2 linked regions of the Homo sapiens genome follow. The protein of the gene in region 1 interacts with the protein of each later gene in a pairwise test. Each region holds a gene or a part of one and is shown on either strand. Other genes may lie near its edges.

Region 1 (3,822 bases):
CAAAAGAAAAAGTTGAATGTTCTTTGGTGAGTTTCCTTCTTCTCTGCCTTTTCCTTCTTTAGCCAGTTCCCCTCAACCCCTGTGCACTCCATAGGAAGGACAAACTTACCTGTCTGCTTCCTTCCCATGTGCTTCTCCCCAAATTTTCATATAGATATATACGTACACTCCTTTTGGAATAAACGAAGAGGTACATTATATTTGACACAAACTTGGGAGTGTTAAGAGGTCATAAGTGTTTACCTATCAGATAACCATCTGTGGCTCTGTGTTGGATTTTTTTTATACCATTAGGAAAATGGGAATTTTTTTATAGGCCTGCCATACTTCTACTTTGCCAAATAGCACTTTATTATCAAGATACACCCATGGCTCATTTCAGACTCACTGAACTTTTTTTATATGAATGCACAGTCGTCATATTTTGGGCAGTCTGTGAGTTCTTGGTAACTCATCCCCTTACTACAAAAGCACTAAGTGAACAATACAAAAGTATAAAAGCACAAATTTGAACTTACATAGTTTAGTTTAAGTATGTTTCACTAGAAAATCAAATATTTAGATTTCTCACATTGAAAATGCTTAGGATTGAGGTTTAGCTGCTTCCTTTAAAAAAAAAAAAAAAAAAAAAGCCCCATGTCTTTTTTCTTTACCTACTGGAGTATTCTCAGACCATTTCCTACATGAAAACACCCACCTGCATTCCTTTAGTCCCCTGTATGGTCTCTTTGAGGATCAGTGCCCACTAGGTTGTCTTGTAGGTGGACTAATCTACAGATCACCTTTACCTTCAGTATTTTCAGGAACAAGTGAATCATGGAGTCAAATAAGAGCTTTGTTTTGTTCACTTGACTCACCACTTGACTGTATTCCCTGAAAATGTTAAATGATAGTTCTCTAAAAAGACCAGGTCAAGCTAGCAGCCTCTAGGCTTCCATCCATGTCACAGCTGGGCACCTGCTTGGGTGCACCTTCTGTGTTGGTGTCCTGCGGACTGCACTCCAGGAGCAGTCAGCCTGTGCTCCTGAGTCTCCCCTCCCCAGGCCCTGGAGGAATGGGGAGTGAACCCACTTAGTTGCTGAGGCCTGCAGTTCTTCTGGATATTTTAGTGACCTCACAGACAGCAAATTAAAACAGGAGCTGATTTAAGAAAAGAAGTGCTGGTACCAAAAAAGAACTTTCTGTTTTTACCTTGGGATAATTTTTTATAAGCAAGTCAAAGGGACTCTCTTTAAGTTACTGATGGAGAAGATATTTGAGGTTTTTTGGGGGGCCATTTTTAGTGGCTCTGATATATCCAAGCTCTTTTAGACACTTTAGAATGAAGAGCTGTTCTAATGTTCCAAAATCTATTCGTTGGTCAAAACATTTGGTAGCATATGAAGCTTTATACAGACTAGGGATATTGGAAAAGAAATGTGACTTTTAAAATGACACCTAAAACATGCATTCGGTGTCTGGTCTGTTAACTAGGGGCCATCTGGGTCAATAACAAGTTACCTCATGGAGAAAATGCAATAGGACCAAACAAGGAAGGAAATAGGAAGTAACTCAGTCTCTCTTGGGTTTAATGCTAACCTGCTAAGGTCAGGCAAAATTTAAGTGGATTTAGAAACCATAAAACCTTCTAGTGAGATGAATGCAGTGACAAAGGACCTTTGACCAGAGAGTCAACTCTTCATTATTCGGACTTTAAAGCCATCTTTTTGGAGGTGATATTGTATTAGGCAATCCGTTATTTACTAGACATTGCAGAGCACCCCTTCTAGATGATGAGGCGGATATAGGGGGAGTGAGGGCTGTGGTCCATTCGGTTGGGAAGATGGAACACGCAGATAAATCAGTGTGTGCTACAGTTCCACCGGTAACTTCACTCTCATAAGGTGGATTCCAGAAGCATCTTGTTTCCATTATCCCCCCAGTCCTCTTCCTCTCATCTAGCCAGTGGCTGTAATACTGAGGTGGAGAGAACAGTCATTGTTTAAGCTGGCTATCTTTTGGCCTGAGGGTTTGGGGTATGTTGATATTTGTCGGTTACTATGACTTCTTTTTTTTCCCCCCTCAATTGCATCAAACCCTTAAAACATGGTGGTAAGTGAGCGATATGCATGCTTTTGGAGTTTGTTTAATCTCCGCTTCAGTCTATACGATGCACAGTTCATAATGTTAACACTTTTCTTCAAGTTTACTTCATTCACTTTCACAACTAATTTGGATTTCAGTTTGCTGTTTAATCCTCATTTACTTTGGTTTCTGTATCTTTTTTCTGTAATTCTGTTCTTTCCCTCTCCCCTGACTTCCCTGTTAGGGGTCAAGTCGTTTTTTTGTCTGACCTGTAGGGGAGAGTGGTGCTGCAGATAGTGATTCAGTCCAGGAGAGTGGGGAGACATGAGGCTCTTTTGTTTGTCAGTGTGAAAGTGGATTTGGGGAGACAGATGAAGAGGGCTCCTGGGATTTTGCCCCCTTGTGAATCTCAACTGCTCCCACTTGCAGGCATGGCAGCTATGCCGGAGGCACTGTCGCTAAAACACCTCCATGCAACCCTTTGCATGTTACCAGCTTGTTGGGCTGGAAAGTGACATTACTAATCAGACACCAGGGAATACCCACACTCCAAAAGGAAAAACAGCCCGTGGTGTGAGGTGCTTGGGTTGGTGCCTACAGTGTCATGCTTTGAAAAGATTAGCCTGGCTATTGCGATTCTCCCTCCCCTGCTTTTTATTTTAAATTTGGGAGTAGATTGGTGTATTCTTGATTCGGCTCTCTTGCATTAGAATTTTGTATTTTCGAGTGCACAGCCAGAGCACTAAAAGTATTCCAAGTTTGCTCCTATGTCTTTTCATTTAAATCCCCAAAGTGCTTAGTTCCTAGCATGTAGCTGAGCTGGCTTGGCCGGGATGCTGAGCATTAGGATGTTGTGAGGGGAGAATTTAGGCTGGGCTTTTGTGTCTTAGTACCTGGTATGTCTTTGTATCTCTCCACTGCATACACAGCACACAGATGTCTTGGGTGTCCTTAAGTCTTAGTTTGTTCTCTGTACCCGTTTGATAGTGTATACTGTTGTTAGTAGTGGACTCCTGTGGACACTAGTGTGTCGCTAGCCTATTGTTTTGGCTGATGAGTCATTGGTTTGTGGTTAGTTCTTTTTTTTGAAATCCTTTTTTGCTCCAGTCACTGTGTGTGCTGGCGGTGGCTTTGCCTCTCCGTTGCCTCGAAGGAACAGGTGGAGCAATGTCTCCCTCTGACAGACATTACTCCCGACATGTGCTCCTGCAGATGCCTACACTGAGACTGTAATCTCCATAACTGCTTCATGTGCACCAAGCCCCCTTGTGGAATCCTGCTGAGAATTTTTCTAGAAGCCTTCAGTGAAATCAAACTGTTCTGAATCATTTAGTTTACCTGACTTTTGTATAATAAAAACAAACTAAGAGCACTTACTTGTTCCCTTCCCCTTGTGGGTCTTTTTAAAACATTCTCTCTCTGTGAATGTGTATCTCTGCTTAAAGGGGATCAAGTTGCACTTAGTTGAAACACGAAAGACTTATAAATCAGAATCATAAAGTATCAATTTAAGAAGGCTTAAACTCATATAATGTCAGCTTTTTGATTTTAAAAAAGTTATCTCATGGCTCCCCTGGGTTTGGCTTCTGGTTTTGGCCAGGGCACAGGAGTGAGCCTGTCTTTCTGAAGTCTTTTCTAGAGGGATGTCACCACTGTTCAGCTTTCCTCGGTGTGTCACAGAACATCCTCTGGTATACATACACTTGTTGCTGGCATAGCCCAGCATGGCTGACCCAATTTAGGTTGAACTATTGTGAT
Region 2 (3,822 bases), on another chromosome or scaffold:
ATATTCATACTCATTCAAGGTAGTCTTATTTTAAAATAAATTAGCATCTATTTTAAGTAATGAAGATAAATACATTGCAATAAAATTATTTTATTTTAAAGTAAATATAACTTTGCCAGATTTTAATCAATTAACAGCAGTTTAGAGATATAGATATACATATACATATATGTGTAGAATATATACTTTTTTTAAACAGGAAGGCATACTTTATGATATATAATCTTTTTACCACAAACTATATACACTTCTCAGATATTAAATCAAACTAATATACTAGGAAGACACTACTACTTGGGACCAGTGCAGCACCTTTACAAGTAGTTTAACTTTTATATGTGACTTTAGTAACACCATTATACAAATAAGCCATCTTACGGGCATTGTTTTGGCAGTGGAAACCTATAAGACACAGGTTGAATTTCACAAAAAGATCTGCAACTTGACGACTACTGCTTAGCATATCTTTGTACAAAATGTGCAGTACCAGGTGCAAGTGTAGCACAGTTGCTAATAGCTGAAAACCGGCACGAAAACTTTACTGCCCTTTGGAAACTGGACAGAACAATCTGGAACTCTCATCTCCTGTTGCTCCTCTAACGATTTAATATATTCTAAATACCTTTATGTGGAAATAAAAAATAACAGGACAAAAGCAGGCTAGGGAGATTGCATTTCTGTCAGTAAAATTTCTCAAATCAACACATTCATCGAGTTTCTGACATTGTTCTTCGAGCAGCCGTCATCTGTCTAATGCAAAATGTGGCTTTGCTTTGTCTTGTTGCAAAAGGAAAGAAAAGCTTTTGTTCAGAGCTTTAGAAAAGTCGGTTCAGTCCACATAATGCATTTTCTCCTTCAATTCTGAAAAGTAGCTAATGCTCATTTGGTAGTGAAGTGCTGCAGAGGAATGTTCTCTTGCTCCTTCTTTCACAAAATTACTTTATGGACAGGTTTCGAACATGTCACTCAACCTCAAAACATGGTGCAGGCTTCTTGGTGGATGAGCTTACATTATCTGAGGGGCGGTAGGAAAGCGTGCTCATTTTTGTTGAAAGGTTTGAGTGGGATTTGGCTTTTGGGGGAATATATTTTAGAAGCTGGAGAAAATATCTTTTAAATTTTTTCCCCAGAAAGCCATAAAAAAGAGGATTCAGGCAATTGTTAAAATAAGCTATACAAATGGTGATAGGCATGGCCGTGTCCACAATATCTGCAATTCTACAGTCACGTATGATGCCTAGTTGAATCAATACATCCAGAAAAGTGAATATTTGGTGGGGAATCCAGGAAAAGAAAAAGAAAAGCACAATTGCCATAATTATCTTAAAAATATCATCATTTCTTGGTTTGTTCTTCTGAATTTCATAAGCCTTCTTTAGGGCCTTCCAAATAAGAGTATAACTTGTAAGAATGATCAGAAAAGGAAACAGGAAACCCAGTATATTTTTGGTCAGGCCCAGCCCTATCGGGAGGGTTGAATTTTGGGACTCATAATGGAAAGCACAAACTGTAATATTGGTGTTCTCAATGAAAAATACATTTCGATGGATTATAGCTGGCAAACTGGCCAAGCCTGCCAGCAGCCAAATGATGATGCAGGTGACTTTGGCTACAAGCATTGTGCGTCGAAGGCGGGACTTCATTGGGTGAACAATAGCCAGGTATCGATCAATGCTGAGACACGTGAGTAGAAACACACTAGCGTACAGGTTGAAACTGACGCTGGCTGAAGCAATCTTACATAGGTAATTGCCAAAGGGCCAGCGGTATTCCATAGCTGTGTAGACAGCCCATAGTGGCAAAGTCAGTAAAAAGCATAAGTCAGCCAGTGCTAAATTCAAAAGAAAAACACTGGCCACAGTCTTCAGCTTCATATAAAAGTAAATGACTATCACCACCAAGCTGTTTCCAAATATTCCCACCACAAAGATGATACTGTATAAAGTAGGAATCATGACAAATATGTAATTATGCCTTCCAGCTTTGGGACAATCATCTTGGATTCTTTTAATACCATCTTCAGTAGAAGAGTTGAGAATCATTTTGATCACCTGGGTCGAATTTGTTGCAAACACTATATCAAATACACCTGGGGAAAATAAAAATAAAATGGTAAAGAAAAAATTCTTATTGTAAACAAACAAACTAACAAACATTCATTTCTCAGTCATAAACGTAGTAACTCAACTTTAGTCTTAGGAAAAAATACTGGATCATATTTCTTAAGGAAACACTGTGAACTGATAAAGCCTAAGAAAGCACACTTAAATTTTAGAACATAATTGCTTTTGTAGAAAATGGTATCATCCAGAGAAGTGAAATTGGGATTCTATGTGAATAAACCTATCTAGGTCCTTTTCCTTTTTTTCTATAAGTAAATCTTGGTTTCCAAATTGATTAAAAACATAACCTAAATCTTAGAAAATACTACTGAATTAAATTAGTTTTTCAGAAAGACTTGAAAGTTTTTCCTGAGGTAAGCAGGACCAATTCATTTATCATTAACCTCAGAAGTGTGACACATTCATATTCTTTAAACCATTTCTTTCCTCTCACAATCTTTACTTAGGTATAAAGATTATAAGTATTCTCCCTTAAGTGGTCAGGATAGCTGCCTTTAGGTGACTGACAAATTGGTCACTGTGGCAATTGATTTAAGAGGCGTAGGAGGTAGGGCTCGACTTTGAGGAATAGGATTTTTTCCATGGTTTTCCAGGCCTCTGCAGTCAGTAACTACTTACTCTTTAACTTCCAATTCAGTCTAGCAAAAGTGCATGAATCTTCTAACCTTCATACCTGCCAGCCATTTCTGAAGTTAACTCTGTGGTTAACCATTTGTGTAACAAAGATGTCAAATGAATAGGTTTGGCTAGGATTATCAAGAAAGCATGTCTTTACTGAGGGCTTGAGAAAGCAGCAGGTTTTTTAGAATTCTGGGGAGAATCAGATGCTCAAGAATGGGCTGCACAAAGCCATGCAAATATTTGCTCTGATTTTCTACATAATCAACAGTCAAGCTATTCATTTATGTGATTTAGAAAATCAACACATTCTGCCCTGGATAACAGTCCATCAGGAAGTCCCAGGAAGGAGGCTGAAGGTTCAGTGAGAGTGACATCACCGAATGTGGTACAGCCACACTCTGAGGTGAAGGTCAGCATTGGGCACAGGCCAGGACAGCTAGGTGGGCAGTGGTGCTGGGCACACAGATCCTATTGCTCTACCAGGAGCAGGTCCCCAGATGAACATGGCTGAGCATTCTCTTGCAATGGCATGCCCTGGGGAAAAAGAGGAGCAGAAATAAGACACCACTGCCATGCCAAGCATGGTTGTGCTTGGCATTCAGGAGAGCTGAACACATGTTCTTAGAGTAGTGTTCACTTTGGTGCAAAGGGATGCTGTGCAAGGGATACAACTCCAGTAGTCAGCTTTTAAGACATAACACATGTGAAGGAGTTCTTAAGTGGTCTCTTTGCCTTCCCTGAGTAAGTAAAGTTGTTCTCCCTATGTAAGTTTTTGGTTGCATGTCCTCATTATTGTTCCTTTTTGCATCCAGCTTATATAATGTACATCCTTTTCTTCTTTGACTCACCAGGACATTAGTATCCACAAACAGGTGTTATCTACCCTAAATGTCACATCTTTGGTGAAGCCTTCCCAACTTTTTTGAGCACTTTGACATTTTGGATGTAGGTTTGACACTTTTTTTTTTTTTTTCTGAGACAGAGTGTCACTGTATTGCCCAGGCTGGAGTGCAGTGGTGCGATCTTGGCTCACTGCGATCTCTACCTCCCAGGTTCAAGTGATTCTCATGCCTCAGCT

Evidence for each region.
Region 2: the proteins of NPTN (region 1) and AGTR1 interact in a two-hybrid assay, tested with the Homo sapiens proteins (one large-scale study listed by BioGRID and IntAct).

What each region holds. Positions count from the first base shown.
Region 1 is NC_000015.10:73,563,812-73,567,633, reverse strand, and holds part of NPTN (neuroplastin isoform b precursor), read left to right. Parts: exon of another isoform or gene 1-696; intron 697-3,822. UniProt on the Homo sapiens protein: Probable homophilic and heterophilic cell adhesion molecule involved in long term potentiation at hippocampal excitatory synapses through activation of p38MAPK. May also regulate neurite outgrowth by activating the FGFR1 signaling pathway.
Region 2 is NC_000003.12:148,739,256-148,743,077, reverse strand, and holds the end of AGTR1 (type-1 angiotensin II receptor), read right to left. Parts: intron 3,279-3,822; exon of another isoform or gene 3,122-3,278; intron 2,090-3,121; 5' UTR 2,043-2,089; coding exon 963-2,042; 3' UTR 75-962; downstream 1-74. UniProt on the Homo sapiens protein: Receptor for angiotensin II, a vasoconstricting peptide, which acts as a key regulator of blood pressure and sodium retention by the kidney.